Linked DNA regions of Homo sapiens: region 1 is linked to region 2. A link means that fine-mapping ties the variant in region 2 to the expression of a gene that starts in the linked region. Tissue or cell type: whole blood. Region 2 holds a variant in brackets; the other region holds the start of a gene. All regions are shown on one strand. Distances are from middle to middle.

What was found. PIP is the estimated chance that this variant, and not a neighbour inherited with it, causes the effect.
Region 1: NUGGC starts here. The variant in region 2 is fine-mapped to the expression of NUGGC in whole blood (INTERVAL, PIP 0.96).

What each region holds. Positions count from the first base shown.
Region 1 is chr8:28,077,688-28,088,945 of GRCh38, forward strand. It overlaps NUGGC (nuclear GTPase, germinal center associated), which reads right to left and starts at 6,249. Exons shown (of 19, transcript NM_001010906.2): 1 at 6,088-6,249. RefSeq lists an enhancer at 1,407-1,536.
Region 2 is chr8:28,144,072-28,152,071 of GRCh38, forward strand. All of the region lies in intron 10 of ELP3 (elongator acetyltransferase complex subunit 3), which reads left to right. Among named protein-coding and RNA genes, the nearest start is that of ELP3, 55 kb to the left of the region's middle. The variant C/G (reference allele first, on the strand shown) is at 3,753.

The sequences.
Region 1 (11,258 bases), 65 kb before region 2:
AGCACTGGAAGCAAAACAAAATGTATGATACAACCAGTGAACAAATCCATGGTCGACCTCCAGGACAGCTGGTGTGCTGGAATTCAAATTCTAGGAGGAAACAGTGGAGCCGGATAAAGTACAAAAGAACTGATAGACCAAGTTGATAAGAGTCGTGGTCATACAGACACTAAGATTAGGGACCTTCAATTGAGAGAGCTGTGGATTAAAGGGCACAAAATCAAAGGGCCTTGAGTTTAGAGCAGAAGCAGCTGTGGTCACTGAATTCTGGAATACGGGTAGTAGTTTTGGCTTCTTTCAGAATCACAAGAACTTTAGTTCATTTGACTTCATTTACTAAATCAACAGTACACAGTGTCCAGCAAGGGCCGTTAGCATGTAACTAGCTGGGGTTGGTTTGGGTTTAGCTGCATGCAATGAAGACAGAAAACCACACAACTTCCTCCGTAGCAGCATCTATGGTTTCTGTATACAAGTAATTTGTGAACTCTAACTGAAATTTGGAATCATTGGAAATTATGTGGTTTGGTTGTGGTGGATTGGGCTTCAAATTCCTTTGGCCAATGTTCAAAGACTGGCAGGAAGGGATCATTTGATGACCAAACAAAAACACTAGCAAATGGAAAGGGATCATTTGCAAAAAGGCTAAGAGGACAGAAGAAAATAAACACCAAGTACATAAAAAGGAAAAGCGATAAACAAATGGGGGTAGTTTGGTACAGACATTCAGTATATAGTCATTGGGTTGAACTAAATGATGAGGTGGGAAGAACATTAGGCTGGAAATCTGGTGTGGAAGCTTCCAGCTCCAGCTTTACCACCCATCAATAAAGCTGGAGGACTTAAGACAAGTCGTTTTATCACCCTGGCCTCAGGTTTCCCATGTGTAAGGCAAAGACTGAACTAGTCCTTAAAGTGTGAGTGTTCTCTGATTTAGATGGGTGCTAAAAAGACACAAATTCTCATTTTGAAAATGTCACCTGTCATTGAAACTGAGACCGTACCAATGATTAGGGCTTCCGTGTGGCCAAGAGCAGTACACCAAGAGCACTGTGATTTCAAGTGCATTGTATTAAGGAGAAAATGAGCTACAGGAGTATAGTCCTTCTTCAAATCATCCTGCAGTCTATTTCCCCCCAAAGGGAAGGAATGGTGGTGTTCATTGTGAAAATTTGGTTTCTGTGGAGAAGCAATTGATAACAGTCCAAATTTATTGCTCAGATAAGCAAGGTTCTGCCTGTGTGGTTTATTTTGCTTGTATTTCAGCTATGTGGTTAGCACTGAAGTTTTGCTTTTAGTGCTTATTTACATTCATGTGCACTGAACCTAAGAATAGCATCTTTTAAATAAGACTGTGCACATTCAGCTAGATATAGGAAGGCTGCACAGAACTGATTTCCTGATAAATAATTGTAACTTTTCACAGTTATTCTTGCTTCTCTCCCCCTCCTTTTCTTCTGTTTGTGTTTGCTTATTGTTTTTTTTCTTACAGGAAAATCACAGAGGCAACACAAACGCAGGTCATTCCTGTACTAGAACAGCTGCATATCATGGCATTGAATAAAGAATGCGGGCCGGGTGCGGTGGCTCTCGCCTGTAATCCCAGCACTTTGGGAGGCTGAAGCAGGTGGATCACAAGGTCAGGAGTTTGAGACCAGCCTGACCAGCATGGTGAAACCCCATCTCTACTAAAAATACAAAAATTAGCCCGGTGTGGTGGCACGCGCCTGTAATCCCAGCTACTCAGGAGGCTGATGCAGGAGAATTGCTTGAACCCAGGAAGTGGAGGTTGCAGTGAGCCGAGATCACGCCACTGCCAGCCTGGGCAACAAAGCGAGATTTCGTCTTAAAAAAAAGAATGCTAGGGCCCCTTCTTCTACAGATCCAGACCCTGAGGACCAGGAAGGGGAAGAAACTTGTCCAAGGTCACATAGTAAGATTATGGCAATGAGGGCTGAAACTCAGTTTTCCTGACTCCAAGTTCAATGTTCTTTTCATCACATTCAGCAGCCTCTAATAGGCACTATTTAAACAAGCCCCCTGGAGCTCAGGCATAGGGCAATGGAAGGAGTAGTGCCCGCAAAGGAGGGTTCCCTCAAATGCATGGCAAAGGCATTTCATGAGAAGGAAGGCTGTTGAGTGGGGAGAGAGAGTAGCAACTTGATAGAATTGTATGCAGGAACTGAAGCTGAAGCTACTGCCTGCAAACTGCTTTTTTGTTTTTGTTTTTGTTGTTCTTTGTTTTTTTGTTTGTTTGTTTGTTTGTTTTGAGATGGAGTTTTTGCTCTATCGCCCAGGCTGGAGTGCAGTGGCACATGATCTCAGCTCACTGCAACCTCCGCCTCCCAGGTTCAAGCGATTCTCCTGCCTCAGCCTCCCGAGTAGCTGGGATTACAGGCACCTGCCACCATGCCCGGCTAATTTTTGTATCTCTAGTAGAGACAAGGTTTCACTATGTTGGCCAGGCTGGTCTCGAACCCCTGACCTCAGGTGATCTGCCTACCTTGGCCTCCCAAAGTGCTGGGATTACAGGCATGAGCCACCATGCCCAACCTTACTGCCTGCAAACTTGAAGACACCCTCAGAAGTAAAACAAGCCAGAGAGAGAGAGAGAGACTATCAGAGGAATACATTTTCACTGCATTTTTTCTGTGTTCAATGCAAAATTCAATGTGTTTATTACAAATGACAAATGTCCTTTTCTTTTCCCCTAGTTATTCTCCTTAGGCAGAATCTCATTTCACCCTACCTTGCCTCGCATCATTAACCCTTGCCAACACTATTTACTTACTTAAATTTAAATGCTTAAATTAGCAAAGTTTCTCAAAGGGGCATTTTGGTCATTAACATTGGTTTACTCTCTACTTTTAATAAATATGGGAAGTACTTGGTACACAGCAAGCACTAAATAATTTGTTGAATGAATGATGATAGATATAATTTTTTGTATCTATATCTAGATAGATCTATCTAGATCTAGATATAGATATATATCTTAGATGGTAAGATCAAGAATAGCAGAAATTATATTTACTATTTTATTTATCCATCCATTCATTCAACAAATATTTGTGAGTGCCTATGATGCACCAGGCACTGTTCTAGATACTGGGGGTACAGCAGGAAACAATGTGGTCACAGTATCTGCAAACAAAGGGCTTCCATATTCCAGATGTGAATGGTGGAGCAAAAATTATTAGGGATTTGGAGTCAGAATGCCTGGATTTTTGCTCCTGCTCCCAATCTTCAATGCAACACAGAGCAAATCACCTGATCTCTCTGAGCCTCTATTTCTCCACATATAGGATAGAATTGGTTTTAAAAAAAATACCTGTATCAAGAATTCATTGGCCAGGCATGGTGGCTCATGCCTGTAATTCTAGCACCTTGGGAGGCCAAGGTGGGCCGATCACTTGAGGTCAGGAGTTCGAGACCAGCCTGGTCAACATGGTGAAACCCTGTCTCTACTAAAAATACAAAAATTACCTGGGCATGGTGCAGCATGCCTGTAATTCCAGCTGCTTGGGAGACTGAGGCAGGAGAGTCACTTGAAGCCAGGAAACAGAGGTTGCAGTGAGTTGAGATCGCACCACTGCACTCCAGCCTGGGCAACAGAGCGAGACTCCACGTCAAAAAAATAAAAAATAAAAAAGAGTTCGTTGTGAGAATTAAATGTGATAATGAATGCAAAATTGCTCTGCAGGCACTTATGCATCTGTACAAATGTTATTTTTTGAATATTTTATGAAGGTAGTTAAACTAGAAATCAGTACTAGTGTCATCCAGGCCACGTCTGTTAGTCTTTGGGGAACAGATGCCACCTTAGCTGAGATTCTGACTCCCGTTCTTGTCCCTATTGATCAAACACATTGAGGATGCTCTACCATCTTCCTTAAAGAATCTTCGATCAGCTGGGTGCAGTGGATCACACCTGTAATCCCAACATTTTGGGAGGCTGAGCCGGGCAGATCATGAGGTCAGGAGTTTGAGACCATCCTGGCTAACTCGGTGAAACTCTGTCTCTACTAAAAATACAAAAAATTAGCCAGCCGTTGTGGCACATGCCTGTAGTCCCAGCTACTCAGGAGGCTAAGGCAGAGGAATCGCTTGAACCCGGGAGGCGGAGGTTGCAGTGAGCTGAGATCATGCCACTGCACTCCAGCCTGGGCAACAGAGTGAGACTCCATCTCAAAAAAAAAAAAAACAATCTTTGGTCAAGTTTTTTCTTGCTCTCACAAGAAGGTGAGCTGAAGAATGAAAGAAGGAAGAGGAGGAGACTGTTAATGAAATGATAGAATGTTGATGAAATTTAGAATTTATTTCCTTTCTCTTTGAGTTTGGGTTTAGGTTTAAGTAACTTTGGTGTTGGCAACATTTCCTAACCACCTCGTTGGCCACTGCACTGCTCTTCCAAACTAGGGATGTCCCAAGGCAGCAATTTAAACACATTAGCTCAGAAGCAAAAGTGAAACAAGGGCCTCCAAATCTCTAAAGGAAAAGAGGTATGTTTTCAGCATTAACACATCGGCTAATGTGTTCAGAATTAGAAATGTGGCCACCAGAAGCAGTCGTAGTAGAAGGGAGGCTTTAGGATGACATGTTTTTCTCCATCTTTCTTCCCTAGGTAAAGAGGTAAGCAAAATAAGCAGATATTTTCATAACGTACTTTAGCAGATTCTAGCGAAACGAATTTGAATCTTCTCATATTGCTCTCCCAAGCTTGTTAAAGCTAATGAGGCATAAGATGACACTTCCCTCCTTATCAGGAATTCATACACCTGCCAGCAATTTCTGCAATAGCTGTTTTCTTTTGGGAGGAATGATTAATGACTTGCCTAAGATCACACTGTTCTGTAAAATTCAAACTAAAACCTGATTCTCCCCATTTCTAGCCCACTGGCCTTTTTACATAGCCTTAAAATTCACTTAAACAGCCTGAGCATGGTGGCTCATGCCTGTAATCCCAGCACTTTGGGAGGCTGAGAGGAGAGGGGATCCCTTGGGCCCAGGAGCTTGAGACCAGCCTTGGCAACAAAGTGAGACCCTCATCTCTACAATTTTTTTTTTAATTAGCTGGGCATGGCAGCATGTATCTGTAGTCCCAGTTATTCAGGAGGCTGAGGCAGGAGGATTACTTGAGCCCAGAAGGTGAAGATTACAGTGAGCCATGTTCATACCACTGCACTCCAGCCTGGGTAACAGACCGAAGCCTCAAAAACAAACAAACCAAACCCCCAAAATTCACTTAAGCAAACAGAAAAGTAAAATTCACTTTCCCTCAAGAAATAACTTGCTTTAAGAAAATCAAAGGAGAGAGAAGAGACAAATGTCCCATATACAGAAGAATTCCAAATAATTTACGTAGCTACTCCATCCTCAAGGAGGTAGAATAAAACTCCCTGCTCCTTAAGTGTGTGCTGTGCATAGCAGCTTCTTTCCAAAGAGAACACGGCGGAGATTGGAGCAGGGAAAGGATCACCTTATAGCAGAGAAACCAGACAAGCGCTGCCTCTACCAGGTGGTCAAGGTCAACACCAACAGTCCTAAATCATGTTGACAATATTATCCCTTGATATGATGTGATGAGAACAGCACTTTAACTCTGGGACTCCTTCCCCAAAACCCATAACTCCAGTCTAATAATGAGAAAAACATCAGACAAATGCCAATAGGAGAAGCCTACAAAATACCCAACCAGTACTCCTCAAAACTGCCATATTCATCAAAAACAAGGAAAGTCTGAGAAACAACGCTACAGCTAAGAGGAGCCTAAGGGAACATAACTAAATATAATGTGCTATCCTGATAGGATGCCACAGTAGAAAGCAGACGTTAGATAAAAACCAAGAATCTGAATCAAGCACAGACTTTAGTTTAAGAATAACGTATCAGTATCGGTTCATCAGTTGTAACAAATGTACCACACTAATACAAGATAATGGGGAAGTTGGGTGGGAATTACATGGGAATGCTCTAAACTATCTTCTCAATATTCCTGTAAACTCAAAACTGTTCTAAAAATTAAGGTCCATTTTTAAAAAATCAACCACAAGTTACAGTACAAATTACATAAAAGAAACAACTTACCAGATGTCACTGAACAGAAAAAAAAAAAAAAAGTTCTGGTTTGGTTACAGGAGTCCACAGAGGAGATGGTGGCAGCTTCTCCTTGGTTCAGGTATTTGGAACCAGCTGGGGTACGTAGCCCTTTGGGCCACAATCACAAAGCCACGTTTACACAGCAGAAGTGAAACCAACTTGCCATCAGGGAGCTATTTACCATGGTCTCCTCCCACAGATACTGATTTATTCTGTCTTCTTTCACTTAAATCTAAATTCACCAGGCACGGTGGCTCACTCCTGTAATCCCAGCACTTTGGGAGGCTGAGGCAGGCAGATCACTTGAGGTCAGGAGTACAACAGCAGCCTGGCCAACATGGTGAAACCTTGACTCTACTAAAAATACAAAAAAAAAAAAAAAATCAGCCAGGCGTGGTGGCAGAACCCTGTAGTCCCAGCTACTCAGGAGGCTGAAGCAAGAGAATCACTTGAGCCTGGGAGGTGGAGGTTGCAGTGAGCCAAGATCGCGCCACTGCACTCCAACCTGGATGATGGAGCAAGACTACATCTCGAAAAAAAAAAAAATCTAAATGGTACATGAAACGGGGATCTTGCACCCTTCTCTGCCATGTTCCTACAAGTAGACAGATGTCTTTTTTCCTTTCCAAGTGCATCACTGCATCCTTCCACAGCATCTTTTCTCTGAGGGTGAACAATATTCAGATGACTGGTTCACTGGAGCAGACAGGAAAAATGCCCCAGTTCCAAGACAGACAAAGCACTGGCTCCCCGACACCCAACTATAAGACATGACTGGGAGAGATGGAGGATATGAGATAATAAATATAAAGTTATTCTTGACCCAAAGTCTTAAAATTCACCAAAAATAACATTTGCCAAAAATAAAACAACATTGGATTGTTTGAGTGTAGAAATGAGTGATATACCGCTTTACACCTCTTTCTGGAACTTAAATTTTAAATCCGTATATTTTTATGTCTTTATTTAGTTAGAGACAAGGTCTTGCTCTGTCACCCAGCCTGGAGTGCAGTGGCGTGATCATAGCTCACAGCAGCCTCGACCTCCCAGGCTCAAGCCATCCTCCCACCTCAGCCTCCTGGGTAGCTGGGACCATGGTCATGCTCCATCACGCCCATCTAATTTTAAATTCATATTTTTAATAAACCCAGAAAACAAAAATTTGAAAGTGCTGTCCAGGAGAGAAGAAAATAAAACCCACTCCACTTTGCTGTGTCTGGCAACCCAAACCATCACATCACATACAGGGAAAAAGTTGTCCCTTGAACCCTCAGCTTCAGGGTGTGTGTTACCTTTTTTTTTTTTTTGTGAGACACAGTCTTGCTCTGTCACCCAGGCTAGAGTGCAGTGGCGCCGTCTCAGCTCACTGCAACCTCCGTCTTCCGGGTTCAAGAGATTTTCCTGCCTCAGCCTCCTGAGTAGCTGGGACTACAGGGGTGCGTCACCATGCCTGACTTTTTTTTTTTTTAATTTTAGTAGAGACAGGGTTTCACCATGTTTGCCAGGCTGGTCTCGAACTCCTGATCTCATATGATCCGCCCACCTTGGCCTCCCAAAGTGCTGGGATTACAGGTATGAGCTACTGTGCTGGGCCAAGGGTGTATGTTACCTTTAAAGGCCAACTCAGTCATTACCAAGACAACCCTCAGTACTCTAGGTATGTATTTAGTCTGAAGAGGGGATTCAGAAGGTAAAGAGGTCAGAACAGGGAAAGAATTGAAGATAAATGTTTAGACTGTGGTCTTAAAAACTGCTTTGAACTTTTGGCAAGATGACGTCCCTCCTCCATAAGAAAACCACAGAAACACCAGGCTAAAGTTCAGAACAAAGAAAGTCAGCACAAATGCCATCCTGGATGCTGAGTCTTATACTGATCTCTCTAGGCAAAATCACACCTTACGCTTACATTCATGTCACGTGTGCTCAGCTCTCCCTCTACTGGCTATTTCTTAGCTTCAACAGTTAACCACAAATGCTACTAAATTACTTAATTATTAAAATTAATTTTGAGCATTTTTAAAGCTTCCTGGGGCAAGGCCCAGTGGCTCACACCTGTGATCCCTGCATTTTGGGAGGCCGAGGTGGACAGATCACCTGAAGTCAGGAGCTTGAGACCAGCCTAGCCAACATGGTGAAACCCTGTCTCTACTAAAAATACAAAATCTAGCCGGTCATGGCAGTGTGTGCCTGTAGTCCCAGCTACTCAGGAGGCTGAGGCAGGAGAATTGCTTGAACATGGGAGGCAGAGGTTGCAGTGAGCCAAGATCAGGCCACTGCACTCCAGCCTGGGCGACAAAGGGAGACTCCATCTCAAAAAATAAAAAAATAAAGCTTCCTGAGTTCCTTTATTTGTTTGCTTGTTTTTGTTTGTTTGTTTTAGACAGGGTCTCACTCTGTCACCCAGGCTGAAGTGTAGTGGCGTTATCACGGCTCACTGCAACCTCAACCTCCTGGGCTCAAGTGATCCTCCCACCTCAGCCTCCCAAGCAGCTGGGACTACAGGCATGTGCCACCACACTTAGCTTAAAAAAACAAAAAACAAAAAAAGAAAAACAAAAACAAAACAAAACTTTAGTAGAGATGAGGTCTCCTTATGTTACCCAGGCTGAACTCAAACTCCTGAGCTCAAGCGATCCTCCCATCTTGGCCTCCCAAAGTGTTGGGATTACAGGTGTAAGCCACTGGGTCCAGCCTCTGGGGTTCTTTATGGTAGTCCTTGGCACCTGCTATTGGACGCCTGAATGCTAGGCCTGTTAGATGTTTCTCCATTCTCTCAGGCTGAATTTCCATTGAGCTCACTGAAAACACTGAAGCAATGAGACCGTCCACAGAGCCTCATCATCACCCCCAACCACCTATCCGGTGCTCTGCCCTCCAGCCTGTTGCTAGATGAACTATCCATGCACCCATTAAAGGCCAATCCCTTCTCTGTGCACCAGATTCCATCCCTCTCTCTAACTGAAGAACCATGTAGAGTACTTCCTCCTCTTCTCTAATTCACCAAACTTTCACTCTCCACTGGATTATTCCCATCTGTGAACAGATTTGATGTCATTCATTCCACCTTAACAAACACTCCCTGGACCTCCATTTCCCTGCCAGGTATTAGTATATTTCTCTGCACTTCTTTATGACAAAACTCCTAGGCTGGGCATGGTGTCAGCACTTTGGGAGGCTGAGGCAGGAGGATCACTTGAACCCAGGAGTTCAAGACCAGTCTGGGCAACATAAGGAAACCCCTGTTTCTACAAAAAATAAAAATAAAAATTAGCCAGGCATGGTGGTGCATGCCTATAGTCCCAGCTACTTGAGGGGCTGAGATGGAAGGATCACTTGAGCCTGGGAGGTCGAGGCTGCAGTGAGCTGTGATTGTACCACTGCACTCCAGCCTGGGTGACAGAGCAAGACCCTGTCTCCAAAAAAACAAACAAAACCCCACAACTCCTCAAAAGAGTTGTCTCTACTTACTGTCTCAAATTCCTTTCCTCTCAAGCTAATATAAACCTATTCCAGTCAAGCCTTCACCCTTCCCATCCCATTAAAGCTGTTCTTGTCAAAGTCCACAATGATCCTGGTCAATTTTCAACCTTTATCTTTCTTGAGCCATCAGGAGCATTTGACCTGGTTGATCATTCCCTCCTGTTTGACAAACCTCCTACACTTGGCTTTCAGATAACCACTCCCCTAGTTTTCATCCCATCTCCCTGGAAGTGCTCCTCAGTCTCCTTCACTGGTTATTCCCTCGCTTCTCAACCTGTTAATAATAAAATACCCCAAGGCTTCATCTTCGGTCTCTTTCCTTTCCACAGCCACCCTGTTTCGTAGCTTTCAATTTCGTTCACATACCGATGGCTCTCGACTGATATCCAGTGTCAACCTCTTTCGTGTCTTCCTGTTCACTAGTCATCCGAAAATACAAGTTCAAACCAATCCCCGCCAGTCCCTTGAAACACCTCTCCACCTAATTTTCTCCATTTCATCTAATGATAACTACATTTTTCCAGTCCCTTGGTCAAAAAGCTTTGGTGTCACATTTGATGTTGCTGTCTGCCTTTCATATTCCACATCTGATCTGTCAAAAAGTCTTGTTGAAATCTTCAAATTATATTCAGAATCTGAACACTTCTCACCACCTTCACTGCTGACTACCCCGATTTGAGTCTCAATAATCTCTGGCCTCATTCAGTGGTTCCTAAGTTTTGCTGCACGTTGGAATAACCCAGGATCTTTTAAACATGCTAATGCCTGACTCCCACCCCTTGATATTCTGATTTAATAGGTGTGGGATGTAATCTGGGCACTGGGAATTTTTCACTGCTCTCCAGGTGATTCCAATTGCAGCAAAGTTTGGGAATCATTGGCCTGGCTATGGTAACCGCCACCCACCTGATCTCCCCACTTCCACACCAACCCCCTCCCACAGTCTATTCTCAATGCAGCAAATAGACATGCTTTTAAATTACAGATCAGATCCATTCAATTCTCTGCTAAAAACACCAGTGGCTCCCCATCTCAATTAGGGTAAAAGCCAAAGGCTTTTCAATGGCCCACAAGGTGTTACATGAGCTGCACTGCCCCCTGTCCCATGCGCCACTCCTCTGACCTCTCTTTCACATTGCCTCACCCACTGCTCCCGTGATGTCAGCCTCCTCAGTCTCCTTGAACACCCCAGACATCCTCTCACCTAGGACTTTTTTTCTTTTTTGAGATGGAGTCTCGCTCTGTCACCAGGCTAGAGTGCAGTGGTGTGAGATCTAGGCTCACTGCAACTGCCACCTCCCAATTCTCCTGCCTCAGCCTCCCGCGTAGCTGGGAGTGCAGGCGCGTGCCACCATGCCCAGCTAATTTTTGTATTTTCAGTAGAGACAGGGTTTCACCATGTTGGCCAGGATGGTCTTGATCTCTTGACCTTGTGATCTGCCTGCCTCAGCCTCCCAAAGTGCTGGGATTACAGGCGTGAGCCACTGCGCCTGACCTTCACCTAGGACCTTTGCACTAACCATTATCTTAGCCAGAAATACTCTTTCCCACATATCTACACATCAAGTATTAGCTCAAATATCACATTGTCAATAAGGCCTACTGTAACCCCTATTTAAAATTATACCTTTAACCACCTATCTCCCTCCCCTCTCTGAGATAAAACAGGGAAGAGGTAG
Region 2 (8,000 bases):
ATCAGTTGTATGTTTATATTTAATTTGCCAGTCATGAAATTTGGATTATAAATATTGTCTTTTTATTGAGAAAGCTCAGAAAAAGTTCATAAATGTTGCCTCATTTTGAATTCTTTCCTCTCACCCAAACGAATAGGAGACTAGGGAACCAAGAGGCCACATTCATGTTCGTATAGGACACTTAGCACATAATAACAATCTGATAGCTGTTTTCTAGTAAAACAGCTTCATATCTCTATTTAAAAACCTTAAATTCGGCCAGGCACAGTGGCTCTCGTGTGTAATCCCAGCACTTCGGGAGGCCGTGGCAGGTAGATCGCTTGAGCCTAGGAGTTCAAGACCAGCCTGGGAAACACGGTGAAACCTCATCTCTACCAATAAATAAAAACATTTTAAAAATTAGCCAGATGAGGTGGCACATGCCTGTAGTCCCAGCTGCTCAGGAGTCTGAGGTGGGAGAATCACTTGAGCCTGGGAGGTTGAGGCTGCAATAAGATGTAATTGCTCCACTGCACTCCAGCCTAGGCAACAGAGTAAGACCCTGTCTCCAAAAACAAAAACCCTGAAATTCCATTTCAAAGTGTTTCAAAATTTATATTCAGATAGAACTAGAATTTGGTAACTAGAATTTTGGAATTCAGACATTATCTAAAATGTCTAGACTTTTAGAAAGAAACTTGTATCAGGCTGGGCGTGGTGGCTCACGCCTGTTTTCCCAGCAGTTTGGAAGGCCAAGGCGGGCAGATCACCTGAGGTCAGGAGTTCAAGACCAGCCTGGCCAACATGGCAAAACCCTGTCTCTACTAAAAATACAAAAAAAATTAGCTGAGTGTGGTGGTGGGCACCTATAATCCCAGCTACTTGGGAGGCTGAGGCAGTAGAATTGCTTGAACCTGGGAGGCAGAGGTTGCAGTGAGCTGAGATCGTGCCACTGCACTCAGCCTGGTGACAGAGTGAGACTCCATCTCAAAAAAAAATAAAATAAAAAAGAAACCTGTATCAAAAGCTAGATAGTAAAATTTTGAAATAAAAGTGCTCAGAAAAATGTTAATTGCTAACTTAAACATTATAGTCAAATGTGTATGAGAAGGCTGAGTGTTTATACAGCATCAAGTGGCTGAGAAGCTTTCTGATTTGGGAAGAGAGACTCATGGGGATTTTACTCAGCAATGTTTTTTTCTAGCTTCAGCCTTAAAGTTTTAGAGCAATTCTGAGACTGTAGAAAATTGCTGTTAGTCTTAAGACTACAGTTAAGCACCCTGACTCTGTTTAATTTGATATTAGTTATGTCTTGCTAGGAAGAAACCACTGGCAAAGGAGAAAAGTCTCCTTCCAGGATATTTAGTCCAGATGATTTTTAATAATTATAGTTTATTTATTTTTGTTTGAAATCATTGTAAAGGAAAATCATTTGTGTCTTTCTGTTCAGTGCCTTTAGAAAATCTGCATAGCCTCCATGGAGGTTCACCTAGTGGCAGCTTCCACCAATTATAGGCAACACACTGTTGACTGGTGAAGCTGAACTTACAAGGTTTATGTGGAGAAGGACCTTTTTTTTGTTGTTGTTTTGAGACGAAGTCTAACCCTTGTCACCTAGGCTGGAGTGCAGTGGCACAATCTCAGCTCACTGCAACCTCCGCCTCACAGGTTCAAGCAATTCTCCTGCCTCATCCTCCTGAGTAGCTGGGATTACAGGCTCCCATCACCGCGCCCAGCTAATTTTTATACTTTTAGTAGAGACGGGGTTTCGCCATGTCGGCCAGGCTGGTTTCGAACTCCTGACCTCAGGTGATCCACCTGCCTCGGCCACCCAAAGTGCTGGGATTACAGGCGTGAGCCACCATGCCCGGCCAAGAAGAAACTTAGGCAGGTATCAGAAGGGAGAATGGAGGAAAGGAAGATAATTTGAGTGAGAACACAATGTTTCACACTTTTAAAATTTTACTGTATTTTACTGATAGATTACTTGATGTTTTTAATTGGTTATTTTCCCCACCCTGCCCTACCCATTACCTTTTTTTTAAAAAGACTATTTATACTTTTTAGTTTTATGACAGTTGAGTTAGGAACATCTTCCAGGGTGTTTTTATGAAGCAGCATCCTAATAGAAGATTCTGTGTTCCAGCCCTGAAGGGTGCAGTCAATGATTAAATGTAAAATTCTGTCCAGACACATGATGGAGCCATATTAAACTGTTGCTGCCCTCAGGCTATTTGACAGCTGTCTGCTGATGTGATATTTAAATCATCATGAAACATTAGAATAGGAATACCAATTCACAACCCAAGCATGTTTCTGAAGTATGAGCAACTGCAGACAAAAAAAGGCCTAGACATCACTTGAAAGGTTTCTGATGAGCAAATTGCAAATATCAGCACCTCTAAGCTTGAAATGTTACCTGTTGAAATAGAACAGTGAATGTTCTTGTATGTAATCGATCTTCAGGCCAAGAAAGTGGAACTAGATTGAATCAAATGGAGAAACGTAAAAATAATTTTAACTCCTACCTAGATGAATGCAGCAAGCTCAGATAGTCAGTAATCTCATCTAGGTTTTCAACTCCTAGAAGACTGTAACAATGCCTGCTTATATAGTCCAGATTGCTTACTGCAGTACTCTGTCCATTGAACATGTTCAGCATACATAGAATTATCTCTTTTCATTTTCAGTGAAAAAGACTTTGTCACTGAAACTGGCAATTACCACATTTCTGTTCCTTAATGAGGAAAAACTTCCATCTGGTATACTCGCAGCACGATACTACCAAAGACCATTGAATCCATGTTGCATTCTCATAGTGGCAGACGTAAATTTGAGGACATTTGTGAATTGTCAGCATCAATGTGAATGCCTCTGTTACCAGGTCCTCACTGACTTGTGCTCTCTGGTAATCAGGGCCAGCTTCAAGGATATGTGACCCATGCAGTCTCATAGGGTCTTGCACTTGGCTTAATATTCTGCTGTCACCGTCTTGAAATTATTAATAATTTTTTTCACAAGGACTCATGTTCTCATTTTGCACCGGGCCCCACAGATTCTGTAGCAGCCTCCTGGGTCTTTTTATCATACAGTTCTGCTTACCAACACTGTATGTAAAACCTTCCCTAGAGAGTTTACGTCTATTGAAATTTTAATGTCTTTTGAAAGTACCAGTTTGTTATTAAAAATATTTGTAGAGATCATCTCCCCTTACCTTCCCATCCCCTCTTCCCACTGCCTGTGGAGACAGTGCACCTGAAGCGTGGCCAGCAGCGTGCCTGGCACCTGACTGATGCAGAGGTAAGGAGAGGGAGTGCAGAGATGGCAACTGCAGTTGTTGGGAGATTAGTTACATTGAGCAAAGAAGTTATTTGATTTAGCAAATGAGTAGATGTCCTAAAGATAAGGAGAGCCAGTTTTCTCACTCCCTGAAGGGATTTACAAACATTTAAAAGGTGAAAGCTGAAAAGAACACCAACGTACCATGTTAGTATTGGAATTATCAGTATGAACTTACGGGTTTAAAAATTTATATATAGAAATAGTTATAGCGTGTATGTTTATATATATAAATATATGTCTCTCTCTGTGTGTGTATGTGTGTATGCATGCATATATTTCTTAGTAGTATGTACTGAGAGGTTCTAGAGGCAATGACACCCAGCAGTAATAAACACAGTGAGTTCCAAGATTATAGTTTCTAAAGCCACTCTCCACTAAAAGAAATCAGTGCTTAGAAAAATGGCCATTTCCAGGGCTGGGCAGCAAACATA[C/G]AGGATGAACACAGAACATCTTGTCTTTCCAGAGAGTAAGTAAATAATCAAAGAATGACAGGTCATGTCAGAAGGACCCAGAAACCAGCCTGAATGCATACCCACTGGCAAAAATCTAATGTCAGCAACAAAATAAATAATGTTAATATTAGTTAAAAACTTGTATAAAATAGGAATCCATAAGTTTGTACTGATATACATAAATGAATAGATAAATAGGAAAGAAGGGAAAAGTCTTCCTTACATACAAGGTCAACTAGTAAATATAGAAGGGATGGTAGAAATAGTAACTATTTGGCAACCATTAGATTAGTAGTAAATGCTACTACTAATAGCATTTACATTGGTGTAATACTACAGTACTACACTACATTGGTGTAATACTACAATAGCATTAGGTGATAGACACAGGAGTCATCAGTCAATATGAGACTAGTAGTTGTAGGTTTGATGAGGAACAGGGTGTTGTCATGATATTGACATTTCTTCCCATAAAATATTACTCAGATGTAAAGGGGGAAATGGTGACCATGGTGTAGATAGCCGGCAGACGCAGTCTTGACCAGGGCATCCTGTGATGAAACAGGTCAATATAGCATGCCTATATTATTCACTGAGACAGGGCATCATTTCTGTGGTATTCCTGCCAAGAATTCATGGCCTCTGGTCATGAGGAAACACTAGACACATCCAGTGAGAATAAAGACTTTCTAACTGGATACCATTAAGTATGGTGTTAGCGATAGGCATTTTTAGATACTCTTTATCAAGTTGAGGAAGTTCCCCTTTATTCCTAGTTTACTGAGAGCTTTTATCATGAATGGGTGTTGGATTTTGTCAAATGCACTTTCTGTATCGACTAATATTGTGAGATTTTCTACTTTAGCTCATTGTTTTGATAAATTATGATAAATCGCACTTGGTTTCAACATATTCTTTTTATGCATTTGATACATTGGATTTCATTTGCTAATATTTTGTTGAGGATTTTTGCATCTATGTTCATGAGAGATGTTGGTCTGTAGTTGCTGTGATCTGAATGTTCCTCACCCACAAAAAAATAAAAATTCATGTGTTGAAATCCATACCATCAGGAGGTGGGACCTTTTGGGATGTGATTAGGTTAATAAGGCAGAGCCCTCATGAATGGGGTTAGTTACTCAATATAAGAGGCCCCAGAGAACTGCCTCATTCCTTCCATCATATGAGACACAGCAAGAAGGCACCATCTGTGAGAAAGTGGGCCCTCACCAGGCACTGAATATGCAAGTACCTTAATCTTGGCCACCAGAACTGGAAGAAATAAATTCCTGTTGTTCATAATCTAAACAGTTCATGGTATTTTGTTAGAGCAGCTCGAACAGACTCAGACAGTAGTTTTCTTGTAAGTTCTTTGTCTGGTTTTGGTATTAAGGATGCTGGCCTCACAGAATGAGTTAAGAACTACTAAGAAGTATTCCCTCTGCTTCTGTCCTCTGAAAGAGATTGTAGAGAATTGGCATAGTCTTGCTTAAATGTTTGGTAGAATTCACCAGTGATAGAGTCTTATTCAGATTGAGTATTTCTTCTTGTGAGTTTTGGCAGATTGTATCTTTCAGGGACTTTGTCCATTTCATCTAGGTTATCAAATTTGTGGGCATAGAGTTGTTCATAGTTTTCCATTGTTATCCTTTTAATGTTCGTGGGCTCCGTAGTGATGTCTCCTCTTTCACTTCTGATACTAAGCGTTTCCATCCTCTCCTTTTTGTTAGCTTGGCTAGAGGCTAATCAGCTTTTGATTGGTCTCTTCAAAGAACCAGTTTTTGGTTTCATTGATTTGTTTCTCCGTTGATTTCCTGTTTCAATTTCAATTTCCACTCTAATTCTTATTATTTATGTTCTCCTGCTTACTTTGGATTTAATTTACTCATAGTTTCCTAAGATGGAAATTTAGATTTTTTATTTTAGATTATTCTTCTAATATAGGCATTCAGTGCTATAAATTTTCCTCTAAGCACTGCTTTTGCTGCCCTCGTTCTTTGTTTCTATTTTTGTCTTCCATTCTTTTTCTGCCCTTTGTGGTTTTAATTAAGCATTATGTATTATTCCATTTTCTCTCCTTTCTTAGCATATCAGTTATTCTTCTTTTTTTACTTTTTCTTTCCAGTGGTTGCCCTAGAATTTGCAATGTGCATTTACTACTAATCTGAATTCACTTTCAAATAACACTATACCACTTCACTTCACAGGTAATGTGATACCTTTATAATAACAAAATAATCCTAATTCCTCCCTCCTGTCCTGTGTGTCATTGCTGTCATTCATTTCACTTAAATACATGCATAAGTAAGCATTTGTATATATGTATGTATATACACACACATAAGCTATCTATAGCAGCATACATAATTGAATACATTGTTGCTATTGAACAAACTCTGTTAGATCATTTTAAAATAAGAAAAAGGAAAGGTTTTATTTTACCCTTGTTTTTGTTCAACATTTCTCTTTATGTAGGTCTGAGTTTCTGACCCATATCATTTTCCTTCTCTCTAAAGAATTTCTTTTAACGTTTCTTGCAAGGCAGATCTATTAGCAACAAATTCCCTGAATTTTTGTCTGAGAAAGCCTTTTTCTCTCCTTTATTATCCTTTGAAAGAATACTTTCATAGGATTCAGAATTCTAGGTTGGTGGCGGGTGTTTTTTTTCCTATCAGCACTTTAAATACTTCACTGTACTCTCTTCTTGCTTGCATGGTTTCTTAGGGGAAGTTGGATATAATTTTTATTTTTCTCTATACGTAAGGTGTTTCCCCCCCTCCCCAGCTTCTTTCAGGAATGTTCTTTATCTTTTTATTTTCTGTAGTTTGAAAATGAAATGCCTACATGTAGGTTTTGGGGGCATTTATCCTGTTTGGTATTCTCTGAGCTTCCTGGATCTGTGGTTTGGTGTCTGATATTAATTCTGGGAATTTCTCAGTCACTTGTTTCAAATATTTCTTATATTATTTTGTTTCTTCTCTTTCTGGTGTTCTTATTACACATGTTACACCTTTTATTTATTTTAGAGACAGGGTCTCACTCTTACCCAAGCCATTCTCCCACCTCAGCCTCCCAAATAATCGGGACTACAGGCATGTGCCTCCGTTTTTTGTGGGGATGTGGTCTCATTATGTTGTCTAGGCTGGTCTCAAACTTCTGGGCTCAAGTGATCTTCCTGCCTCGGCCTTCCAGAGTGCTGAGATTATAGGTGTGAGCCACCGTACTCGGCCTGTGTGACACATTTTGTAATTGTCCCACAGTTCTTGGAAATTCTGTTCTATTTCTTTCAGTCTTTGTTGTCTTTGCTTTTCCATTTTCAGAGTTTCTCTTGATAATATCTCAAGCCTAGAGATTCTTTTCTCAGCCATGTCTGTCTACTAATAAGCCCATCACAGGCATTCTTTATTTCTGTTTCGGTGATTTTTTGATCTCTAGCATTTCTTTTTAGTGTTTCTTCAGATTTCCATCTTTCTGCTTACATTCCCCTCTGTCCTTAAATTCTAGCTACCTTTTCCGTCAGAGCCTTCAGCGTGTTAATTATAGTTGTTTTAACTTCCTGGTCTGATGATTCCAACATCCCTGCCATGTCTGTTCCTTATTCTTGCTCTGTCTCTTCAAGTTGTATCTTTTGCCTTTTGGTATGCCTTCTAATTTTTTCTTCATAGTCGGACATATAATGTTCTAGGTAAAAGGAATTGCTGTAAATAGGCTTATAGTAACCCGATGGTAAGATGATGGGGGAGAAGTGTTCGCTAGTCCTGTGATTAGGTCTTAGTCTTTCAGTGAGCCTATGCCCCTGGACTGTGAACATCACAAGGGTTTCTCAGTTTTTCCTACGCCCTTAGATGGGACAGGATGACTAGAGTGGGCAGGAGTTGGATATTTCCTTCCCCCAGGTCAGTTAGGCTCTGGTTAACTAGTTTCTCCTGCAGGAAGGCCTTAATTAAGAAAAGCAGTGCTAGGTCATGTTTCAAAATGGTTTCTTTTCCCCTCTCCCAGCCAGAAGCAGAAGGGTTTATTTCTCTGATATTTAATGTGAGGATCTGGCCAGGTTACTGGAGGTAAATCTCACAATATTGTAGGAGTTGGCCCATCCGGAGTGTTTAACTCTCAGACTTGTCTGAGCCTCCAGCAGTTCATCGGTTAGAATTCAGGTTTTCTTACCTTAGTGTTGGTTTCTCACAGCAGTTTCCACTCAGGAGTCTCTGCTCTGTTAAGCCACGACTT